2 separate regions of the Homo sapiens genome follow, and region 2 is linked to region 1. The links come from fine-mapping of genetic effects on gene expression. Tissue or cell type: monocytes. Region 1 holds a variant in brackets; the other region holds the start of a gene. All regions are shown on one strand. Distances are between the middles of the regions.

Region 1 (2,686 bases):
AAGAAAGAAAAGAAAACCAGCATACATGCCTAATAATTGCATGTTTGCTATAAATTCCATACACTCTACTGTGACATTTTAATATTAGTAAAGCCTAATTTTCTTAATATTTTAGATTAAAAAATAAATAGAAGCAAGTATTCACATATGTTTTTCTCATACCTCTATGTACCATTTTGAGCACTTCACTTTGGAGTCCAGTTTCAACAGGAGAATCAGATGCACACCCAAAATACTAGAAAGCTTGGGAGTGTGAAGAGGGCTCTAATGTCAGGGTAAGCAAAATATTCTTAGGGCATCAAGGAAGCATTGCCAGAGGAAAGGAAAGCTGAGGATATTCAAGGACTTCTGACCTACTCCGTGGGCACAGCGTCTCTGGGCTTGGACAAGGGATTAGTGCCAGGCTTGATTTCCTTGGCTGGAATCTGTACATGAAGGCTGCACATGAAGAGCCTACCTCACCCCAGAAGCATCCATTTCCTGGCACCTCAAGCATATATGGGCTTAATAAATAACATGTCATTCCATGATGATAGGGACAGACATATTTGGCCCATAGCTTAGAGCCATCCCCAATTGTCTACACTCAATGGTGGGGCAGCAAGTACTGTGGATATGGAGCTGGGAGGCTGAGCTAAATCCTAGCTATCTTACTAACCAATTGTATGACTCTAGCCCTTAAACTCTCTGAGCTTTAATTTTCTCATCTGTAAAATGGGAATGATAAATGCCTTCCAGACCTATTTACAATTTCTAACATTTGTTGAGTTTTTCAATGTGCATTACATGTATCATCTCATGAAATCCTCATGACAAAATAATGAGGTGGAGCTATTATTGTTCCCCTTTTGCAAATGTGGAAACTAAGTTTTAGAGTAGGTAATCTGCCTACAAGTTTACACAGCTAGAATGTGCAGAGATGGGATTCTGAGGCTTGCTCAACTCTGAAGCAAATGTCCTACCCACTCTACTTGGCTGCTGACCATGAACACACTTCATGAACTCTGAAGTACGAACAAGGTACACAGAGTGTAAGATTTAGTCCTTGTCCTTAAGTCTAAATTCAAAATATGTTTATCTATAAAGCGTGTTTTTCTGTTTTTGTTTTTTTGAGATTGAGTCTCGCTCTGTCAGCCAGGCTGGAGTGCAGTGGCATGATCTCAGCTCACTGCAACATCCGCCTGCCGGGTTCAAGCAATTCTCTGCCTCAGCCTCCTGAGTAGCTGGGATTACAGGCGCCCGCCACCACACCCAGCTAATTTTTTTTTTGTTTTTATTTTTAGTAGAGATGGGGTTTCACCATATTGGCAAGGCTGGTCTTGAACTCCTGACATCATCATCCACTTACCTCAACCTCCCAAAGTGCTGGGATTACAGGTGTGA[G/A]CCACCATGCCCAGCCTATCTATAAAGTGTAAAAGTCCGACAAAGTAGGATTTGGTTAGAATGAAAAGGTGGAGAAAGAACTTCAATGTTAGTTTCCTTATCTTTAGTCCCTTACAACGGTATATGATTACTGGAAAGAGCACTTGGTTAGCAAGAAGAAAACCAGTTCTGTCCCATACTTGCTCTCAACTTTAGGCACTTCATTTAAGCTGTTTACTCATCTATTAGGGGTCCTAATGAATGAGCTCTAGAGGGTCTTTTTGCCTGACAATCCTCAAACTCCATTCTCAAAACTTCCTGCAATCGGGAGTCTCCCTCCCCTCCATGGAGAGGGCGGGACAGAGGCATGTAGACAGGGAGGCGATCCTCAGGTCAGCTAGGGCTTACTCAAACAAGGTCCTGTGGGGGCAACAGGGAGAGTGGATGGGGACTCAAGCCAGAGCCCTGGTGGGATGGGCCGGTAATTATAAGGAAACACTGCAGAGAAAGTTTCTGTTGTGGTTGTTCCCTTTGTTTACTTTAGGCAGTTCTGTCATTTTTTAACTGACCCTTCCCAGATGAGATAGTCAGTTTTCAGCTGGGTAAAGTCAGGGCCTTGCAACTGATGGGGTATTTGAATCCTCTGTGGCTCAGTTGCTGGAGGGAGGCCAGGGCAGCTGAAACTCCCCCGCCCTTTCAGGGAAGTGAAGCTGGGGCTACAAACTTGCTGACAGTGGCTGGTGGCCTGTAAACCCAAACATCCTCCTCTCCTCCGTCTCGGTGTAGCAATGTGAAAAAAACAAAGCCACGAGCTTTCCAGAGCAGGGGAAGGCTCTAGCCAGATTCCCTTCCAGCTACTCCCTCCTGCACTTCGGCCCACAGCCACATGGTACAAGGTTATAGTTACAGTTGAAAACTGCTGACGTCTACTTTTTGGTTGTTGTACAAATAATAATTAATAAAACACACACAAAAAAACACACTTTTCTTCATGGCTAAATATTCACATAGTTGATTCAAACCTAAATATGCATACTTGCTTTTCTTTTCCTGTTTTCTTAAGTTTGAATAATAGTCATGTAGCTGTTTAAGAATCAGACAGAAGGAAAACTCATCCGCTTAGTACTTTTCTTAAATTGTCCAGTTTCTTTTGGCCTCTGAATACCAGAGTCTTTTATGTGTAAGATTAGAAACATCTGGCCAGCATATCTGAGTAAGGCTGAGCTAAAGCGGGATGAAACTAGGTAGAATGGCCTGCCTTTCTGAATTATAGAATTTTAAGCATTGATGGGACTCAAACTTACTAAATTCTACCTCTTCATTT
Region 2 (2,686 bases), 62 kb before region 1:
AGAAACATCCAACCATAAAGAAGCTTTCTAAGGAAGCCCTTTGAATTAACGTATCCACTTTTTCTCACCCGCCCGTGCCCCACCCCCAGCCATGCCAAAGGAGCAGCAAATGCTGCTGCCAGGTTGGAGGAATTGGTGATCGTCACACCACATTCCTGGGTCTGGACACAGCCTGAAACAGCAGCAGAGCTCCGCGCCTCGGAAAGAATAACAGCAGTTGAGATTTTTAAATCATGTGCCTCAGCATGCAGCCACACCAGTTGCCCTACTTCTCCTGCCTCCACCTTTCAAAGACGCGAGCAGCACACACGGCTCCCCCGGACTTTCGGTGGGGTTGGAGTGTCAAAACTCAGGCGCGCCGCAAAACCCCGTCCCCATCCAAACCAAGCCCACACACCCGGCCCATGTGCCGCCCCCTGGCAAAGGCGAGGCTGGCTGCGACGGTGCAGGCCGTTTGGCTTGGCGGCCCTGCCCCCGCTCTCCACGCCAGAATCTGGCATTCCTTCGCTCAGCCCCTCCGAGGCCCGCCGTCGGCTCTCGCTCGACCCCAAGAAACGCGGAACCTGAAGGGCAAAACTGCCCACCTCCCTGCACCCTGGCACTACGAAAAAGGAGTTTCTGAGACTTGCTGCCGGCCTCCCTCCTGCCGAGGAGGCGTGTAAGGGGTCCCGGGCCGCGGGGAGCAGAGGCGGCGGGGAACCCCGGCGGTTGGCGGGGCACCACGGGAGGGGCCCCCGGCGATGTCCAAACTCTTGGGAACCCAGCGAGTGGCCTCGCTCCGCGCCGGCGGCCGAGCCTGGCCTTCCCACACAGAGAAGGACCGAGGGGGAGAAGGGTCGCCCCAGGTGGCAGCCCCGGGCGCCGCGGACAGCGCCCCTCAGCCCGATACTCACCATGCGCGGGGGCCGCGCAGCACAGCCAGAGCGCCAGCAGCGCCCACAGCAGAGCGGGGCGCAGGGCGGGCATCTTCTCGGTCGCCTCCTCCTCCGCCGCCGCCGCCGCCGCCTGGGCAGATCCACATGGGGAGGGGGTCCCGATAGAGGAGCCCCACTCTCTCCTCCCCTCCTCCTGCTTCAAAGGCTCAGGCCCTGGCGCTACGCTCCGAAGCCCAGGCGCAAATGCCTCGACTCCCCGCGCCCCGAGTCCGCCGCTCCTCGGCCGCCGCCTCAGCCGCCGCCCGAAGTTTGGCTGAAACTTTCTCGGGTGTGCAACGAAGCAGCCTCGTGTGTCCTTCCGCCTCAGCCGCCTCCTCCCACCGCAAGCCCCGCCCCACTGTCGCCGCGGCCTCGGCCCCGCCGCCTTGGGCACCCAGGGGTTTCCCGCAGGAAGAAGCGCCGGCCCGAGCTCCGCGCGGAGGGATCTACTACGAGTCACTGGCCCCGTCCGCATCCTTCTCCAGCGGCCCCGGGGGCCGCCGCGCCTTAACTCGATCAGGGCTGCAGCGGCTCGCTGGCTTGACCAGTGCAGAAGGGGCGTGGGGGTGAGGGGGGTGGGGTAGGACTCTGAACTTCAAGCACTGGAGTTTGCCGGGATCGTGAACTTGCAGGGAGAGGCGGTCCTCATCCAGTGAGGTCTGTATCGCCACCTACACCCACACATCCACACACTGCTTTGCTAGCTAGAGGAATGCTCTGGAGTAGGACCAGTGCTGTCAAAGAAGGAAAGTGGGCCAAGGCGCCAAAGTCCATTAAAAAGGAATAGAGCCATCACGGAGTGGTGCTGCCCCATTCATTCATTCATTTGTTCATCCGTGTAGCGAATATTTCTTAAGTGCCTTACTTTGCGTAGCTGTGTGCTTGGCAGTGGGATGATACCAAAGATGCACAAGCAACTTTGAGTACCAAGACTTTGCCGCTGTGGGCTGGGGGATTCAGGGAAGGCTTTCCCAGAGGAGCTGGGATGAAAGCAGGATCTTGAAAGGTCAGTAAAATTTGTATAAGACAAGGAGACCAGCTAAGCTAAGGATATTCGTTGTAACACTGTAATAGCAAAACCTTGAAAACAACATAAATGCCCACCCTTAGAGGAATGGATGAATAATGTATGGTATATTTATAAAATGAAATGCAACACAGTAATTGAAAAGACTATAGCTATTTATGTCAATAGGGATAAATCTTAAAAACTAAATGATAGTGAAAAAACTAATCACAGAGGGAGACAAAGTATACCATTTATGTATATTTTTTTCAAGACAATACTACACATTATCTGTGGATGCATATATATAGATATAGATATTAAGAGACTATAACCAGAATAGTAGTTACTTCCAGGGCAGGAGAGTAGGGGGTGTGATCAAACCTGGGTACAAGTGGGCTTCTAAGAAAAGAGCTAAAAGTAAGAACAGCAACAATAGTTGTATGGACATATCATTCCAGGAAAGAGCCCTCGTGAAAGCAAAGGTACAGTCAAAAGAGTAAGTAAATGAGTTCTGTCTCTGTTAGCAGTGAGAGGAGTCAAGGACGGAAAGGGGGTTGGGACCAAATTATGCAGCCTTGAATGGCAAGCTGAAAGGGTGGGGAGGCAGCTACCTCTTAGGTCACATAAAACTATTGAAAGTTTTTGAACAGAGTTGAGATTGATGGAAAGGAAGATTGCTCTGATAATTCTGTAGAAAATTGATTGTTGGGGGAGCAAGAGGTGAACTGGAGCCCCAGGACCAGTCAAGAGTTGGTGAACAGTC

Evidence for each region. PIP is the estimated chance that this variant, and not a neighbour inherited with it, causes the effect.
Region 2: it holds the start of NOTCH2, and the variant in region 1 is fine-mapped to the expression of NOTCH2 in monocytes (TOPMed, PIP 0.92).

Annotation. Positions count from the first base shown.
Region 1 is chr1:120,130,021-120,132,706 of GRCh38, forward strand. No RefSeq gene overlaps it. Among named protein-coding and RNA genes, the nearest start is that of SEC22B, 45 kb to the right of the region's middle. The variant G/A (reference allele first, on the strand shown) is at 1,384.
Region 2 is chr1:120,068,441-120,071,126 of GRCh38, forward strand. NOTCH2 (notch receptor 2) reads right to left here and starts at 1,222. Exons shown (of 34, transcript NM_024408.4): 1 at 894-1,222. The coding sequence starts at 966. It overlaps LOC101929178 (a long non-coding RNA gene), which reads left to right and starts at 1,388. Exons shown (of 2, transcript XR_254374.4): 1 at 1,388-1,571.